2 separate regions of the Homo sapiens genome follow, and region 1 is linked to region 2. The links come from fine-mapping of genetic effects on gene expression. A gene starts in region 2. The other region holds a variant in brackets. All regions are shown on one strand. Distances are from middle to middle. Region 1 has its middle 75 kb from the start of PCGF5. Region 2 holds the start of PCGF5 (polycomb group ring finger 5).

What was found. PIP is the estimated chance that this variant, and not a neighbour inherited with it, causes the effect.
Region 1: its variant is fine-mapped to the expression of PCGF5 in unexposed skin (GTEx, PIP above 0.99). The same link has a PIP of 0.9 or more in sun-exposed skin.

Annotation. Positions count from the first base shown.
Region 1 is chr10:91,143,796-91,146,713 of GRCh38, forward strand. No RefSeq gene overlaps it. Among named protein-coding and RNA genes, the nearest start is that of PCGF5, 75 kb to the right of the region's middle. The variant C/T (reference allele first, on the strand shown) is at 1,350.
Region 2 is chr10:91,219,346-91,222,263 of GRCh38, forward strand. It overlaps PCGF5 (polycomb group ring finger 5), which reads left to right and starts at 1,318. Exons shown (of 10, transcript NM_032373.5): 1 at 1,318-1,491. RefSeq lists an enhancer at 858-927 and silencers at 1,118-1,427, 1,498-1,957, 1,647-1,941.

The DNA of each region.
Region 1 (2,918 bases), 76 kb before region 2:
TGTGACTTGCTTCTGACAAATGGAGCAAGCTGCTATGTTGTGAGCTGGCCTACAAAGAGGGCCAAGTGGCACACAACTGAGGACAGCCTTTGATTAGTAGCCAGCAAGAAACTGAGGCCCTTAGTGCAACAGCCTGCCAGGAACTGAATGTGGTCAACAACCACATGAGCTTGGAAGCAGATCCCTCCCCAGTCAAGCCTCAGGTCAGACAGCAGCCCCAGGCAACACCTTGATTGCATCCTTTTGCTACCCTGAAGCAGCTAAGCTACCCCTGAACTCCTGATCCACAGGACCTGTGAGATAATCAATGTGCATTGTTTTAAGCCATACATTTTTGATAATAGCGCTAAGCAGCAATAGATAACTAATATACCAATTTTCTTAAAATACCTTCTTAAAAGAAACTATAGCTATAATACGATTCAGGTTTCTGACATACATAAATCCTTATTCCTGTTTTGAAAAGGTTACTTTTTATAAATGTATAATATTTATAAAAGTGTAAGTCTATATACTGTCTCCAATTATGAATGCATAAAATTGTTGTGTATATCTGTCAATATAACACTTATAGAATTATAAGTTCTAAGGAAACTTGGATAGGTGAAGCAACTTGCTCAAGTTCCTATAGCTAGTGACAAATCCAGGAACAAAACTTACCACACTGAAATGTGGTTTTTAGCATTCAAGTGACATATAACCATGGAGAAAGTCTTGACAATCTTCCATTTCTTAAAGTGTATACTATCAAAACCTTTCAAGAACTCCTAAAAGGCAACAATTTTCTCACCTAGAAAGTATACTGCCATATGTAAATGTTAGCATTATAAAACTCATCAGAGCTGAATCAAATGGCTTTTATTTGTATTTGACTCCTTTATTCACTCTAAATTATTTAATGATAAAGGAAAAAATGTTTCTTGGCTTTTCTATTTCACTTGGGTTCTTACTACATATATATGCAGCCATAGTAGATGCCAAGAAAGAAGAAAAATTGCTGCTGGACTCAAAAAGCTGCGAGTTTGAGGTGGCACACATAGATTTTTCTTTGCTAAACAAAAAGCAATCTTAAAAACTTTCCTTTGATCGGGATAAGAAGCATTCATGATAATGCCTGCATGGTACCTGGCATGCAGTAAATGTATGTTATTGTTACTATTGTGCAGCAATGAAAAGGGAGGTGCACAGGGACAGTGTGTACCAAACTTTAAGCAAGTGATGAAGCAAACCACACCACCCTGTTACTTTGTAATTCCCATAATTTTACTTTCATCAGTTTGTCATCCTATTAGATAAAGGCCCTGATAAAAAGAAGAGAATGTTCAGCAGCATGCTGAGAATAACTGGAA[C/T]GATTCATCAAAGTGAACAATTGCCCAACCATTGCTAGATGAGAAAAGTGGCAGAAAGTTGCACCAACATGAACAAATACTCTTGGACTTATGCTAAAAAGCCCCAGCAATGTTAACAGATAAAACTGTGGTGTTGAGCAGACAAAACCTCTATCTCTTCTATGCTTTTTGGTAGACATTTATTGAGCACTTACTGTAGATCAGACACTGCACTAGACACTGGGAATGTAAAAATGAGTAAGACACAGCCTTTGACTTCAATAAAAATAAATTATAATGGAATTCAACAATAGAGAAATATATAAGGACACACAAAGGAATAAAAGATTAACTCTACCAATGGGAGTTAGAGAAAGCTTCTTAGAGAAGGAGACGTCTGAGTTGAGTTTTATGGGATGAATCCGAAAATTATCAGAAAAAAAATAAGGAACAACCAAGTGCAAAAGCACGACAGATTCTTCCCAATTTGAAAACTTACCACAGTAATTAATACAGTGTGGTATAGGCATAAGGATAAACATAACAGATCAATGGAATCGAATTGAGAGTCCAGAAATAAACCTCACATTTAGAGAACTGATTTTTGACAAGAGTGCCAAGACAATTCAATGGGAGAAAGAACAATCTTTCAACAAATGGTTCCGGGACAACCAGATAGCCACATGAAAAAAAAATGAATTGGACCCCTGCTTAACACCATATACAAAAGTCAACTCAAAATGGACCAAAGACCTAAAATGTAAGAGTTAAAACTTTACAACTCTTGGATGAAAATATGGGGGTAAATCTTTGTGATTGTAGATTATGCAACACTTTCTTAGATATGAAACTGAAAGCACAATTGACCAAAAATATTTTTAAAAATTGTATTTCACCAAAATTAAAAACTGTTGTGCTTTCTCAGACACACCACTAGGCAAGTAAAAAGACAGCCTACAGAATGGGAGAAAATATTTGCAAATCATATATTTAATAACAGGCTTGTATCCAGAATATACTAACAAAAACTCTTACAACTCAATAGTTAAAAGATAATTAACAAATTAAATATGCACAAAAAATCAGGATAGACATTTCTCCAAAGAAGATATATAAATGGTCAATAAGCACTTGAAAAGATGCTCAACATCGTTAGCTATAAGGGAATGTAAAACAAAACCACAATGAGACACCACTTCTTGCCCACTAGCATAACTCTAATAAAAAAGACAGACAATAACAAGTGTTGACTAGAATGTGGAGAAATTACAACCCTAATACATGACTGTGAAAATGTAAAATGGTGCAATCACTTTGGAATAACAATTTGGCAGTTCCTCAAGGTTAAACATAAGAGTTACCATATGATCTAGCAATTCCACTCCTAGATATAAGTGTATACCCAAGAGAAAAGAAAACATATGTCTACACAAAAACATGTATGTAAATATTCATAACAGCATTATTAATAATAACCAAAAGTGGAAACAATCCAAATGTCCACCAATTAATGAATGCATAAATATGTGATATAGCAGTACAGATAAATATTATTTAGCAATAAAAAGCAATGAAGTACTGATATATGTG
Region 2 (2,918 bases):
ACATATTTAAAATAGTTTCAGACACAAAATAGGAACATACCAAGTCTTTTTTATATATTGTGGTATATATACAGTAATATCCTCCAATGCATATTTTAAACACACTAGAAGTAGTGTGATTTTTCACATACTGTTCTGTTTAGTCTCTGAAATGAAAGATATGAAGCATAAAGAGTAATCCTACTGCCATGAAGTCATTTGACCTCACTTGTTTTCTCTTACTCATTGTGATTGCTGCGACTTATGAAGTTGATCCCAGCTTGGACATTGGCATGTATGATTTTGGAAAATGGTTCTTTAAAGGACTATACGAATGTGGTCATTTAAAGCTGTTTCAGAAAATGTATTGCTCCTGCTGTGATATTAGAAATGGCAATTTTTAAACATGTCAAAGTTTGATTATAAAATGGATAGTTTAAAAAGCTGCCTTGGTCTACTGCTTGATGCATTTTAAATTTGAAATGGATCTTTGAACACTTGTATGGCTGCTGGACTAGCGGTTGTTAAGTTTGTTGGTTTGCCACTTAGAGTCATCTATCACTTTAGTAAGAAGTTAACGCCTATCAGTTGGAGAAAAAGCAAATATTTTGCATTGACAGTCTCCCCTACCCTCTATTATTGTCATTTTCTTAAGCCATCACTGCTCTGGCTTCTAGAATACACATTTTTGAATGAAGGTTTTTGCAGTGAATGGTCTCTTGTAGATCTCAAAGTCCACTAGAAAGAGTACTGGGTTTTTGTTTGTTTTGAACGTTGCAAACAGTAATGCTTCTTTACCACTCACCCTCCCCCCACCCTCAACCTCCACAACGTTCCCGTTTGCTTATAGTTGTCAACGACCATGATCTCTGGACCCACACTACAGTAACAAGTTTGTCAGTCATTTTCAGATAAGGTGCAAATCAAGGGATGGCTTTGTCCCCACTTCGGCGCAGGTGGGACAGACTTGGGGAAGACGCAGCTGAAGAGACAAATTCTCAGGGTGCGTCAGTCTCATCACTGACCGTTGCTTTTAAACCCTCCAGGGAAAATATGCCAGTCATTGTTATGATGTAAACAACCGAAGGGGTGGACGGTGAGGATAAGAAGAACCGAGATAATATTTGGCCAGAGCTACGTGTAGCACAGGGAGCCAGGGCGGCAGCTGCACCTGCGAGCAGCGCAGGCGGCAGGCGCGGCCTCCGGGCGTGGTGGTGGGCGTGGCCGGGCGGCGGGGGCGTGGCCGGGCGGCGGGGCGGGCGGTGCCGCCGGTTGGAAGTGGGTGGAGTTGCCCTTGGAGGCGGCACCGGACCTGGGCCCCGAGGCCCGCCGCGCCCTGTCGGGCCTGAGCCGAGTGGCCCCACAGAGCCGGCGCGCTCCCGCCTGCAGGGGGAGAGCAGACGGGGCGCGGGGACCGGCCAGGCCGCGGCGGGTGCTGTTTCTGTTTCACTTTCCTTCACTCTGAGGCCGGCGCGCTGGCGGGCGAGGAGCGGCGGCGGTGGCGGCCGCTGGGTAGGTACCGGGCGGGCTGGGGAGCTGCAGGGACGCCAGACTCCTCACCCAAGTTTGCGCCTCAGGCGAGAGCGACACCTCCAGACACCTGCCCTGGCCGGCCCAGCCTGGAGCCGGGAGGGCCCTTCGGGTGCAGGGGGCTACCGACCCGGGCGGGGGCTTCGGAGCTGTGCCTACCTCGGCGGGGAGAGCGGCCGGCTGCGGACGCCGGCCCCGGGAAAGGCTGCTCGCTCTCCCCGGCCTGAGCAGCGCGCCCGCGGGGCCTGGGCCCGCGCACCTGCCGGGCGGGCGCGGCTGTGCTGGGACCCCACAGGGCTGTACCGCTGGGTCCTGCCGGAGAACGCAGAAAAGTTCCCCCTTGCCCCCGCCCCGTCATTGCAAGTTCTTGCTTCCCTTAACTGTCTTGGTCACAGGGCTCTGTGCCTTAGGATCTTAGTACCACCCCAGGTCGGGACCGTGCATTTCCTCTTCCAGAGGACTTTCTCTTACTTTGGAGTTTCATGGCAAACCTGTGGGAAAGGCAAGGCAGTTAATCCCAACTTATAGAGGAGGAAGCCGAGACCCAGGCTCAGATATGAAACGGTTTGCTGAAGGTCATACAGGGGTAAGGGCCAGAACCCTGATTCCCTGTCTTTTAATTATGCTTGCTTTCTGTTACACGCACGAATACGGTTTCCCAAGAGGATAGGATGATTACACGTAGAGCCTATTCCCTGCACATTCGCAGTGGGTATGTGTTGATGGAATGCCTTTTACCTTTCCGGTTGCTTTATATTTACCAATGAGTTAACAGCTAAGATGGGGGAAAGTTCCTGTTTATAGAATGCACTTAGGAAAATCAACACCTTTCATGTTGTGTTTTCTGAGAGGATACATATTTTACAGTTAAAAAAAAAAAAAAACCTGAGACAGGAAAGTAGCATTATCCAGGTTATATATCTACTAAATATGACCAGTTTCTATTGAAGAGTTTTTGGTCTAACAAAGAAGGTAAAGAATGAACGTAACTATAAATCAAAATAAAAGGCAAATGTAATAGGAAAGAAGTAAGCATTAAAAACTAGGGAAAGATTGCACTGAGAATAGCATTGGAGAAGGGCTTGAAGGATAGGTGGCATGCAGACAGAGGAGAGAAAGGGCGTGTTGGATAGAGTGCTTAGAACCTGCAGAGGAGACGGTGGGAGAGGAGTGATCCCTTCAGGTTGAAGAAAGTTGTTGAAGGGTATATTAAGGTTAACCTGTAGAAGGTCTTATGTGACAGAATGGGAAACATTTTTCTGTTTGTAAAGAGAAGACACTGACATTCGTTGATAAGAAGACCCAACCAAGTGTCACAAAATAAAATGTGCCTCGTAGCAGAATATAAGATGGACTGCAGGTGGAGAGGTGATATACAAGTAGAGCAGCCGGGCATGGAATAGCAGAGG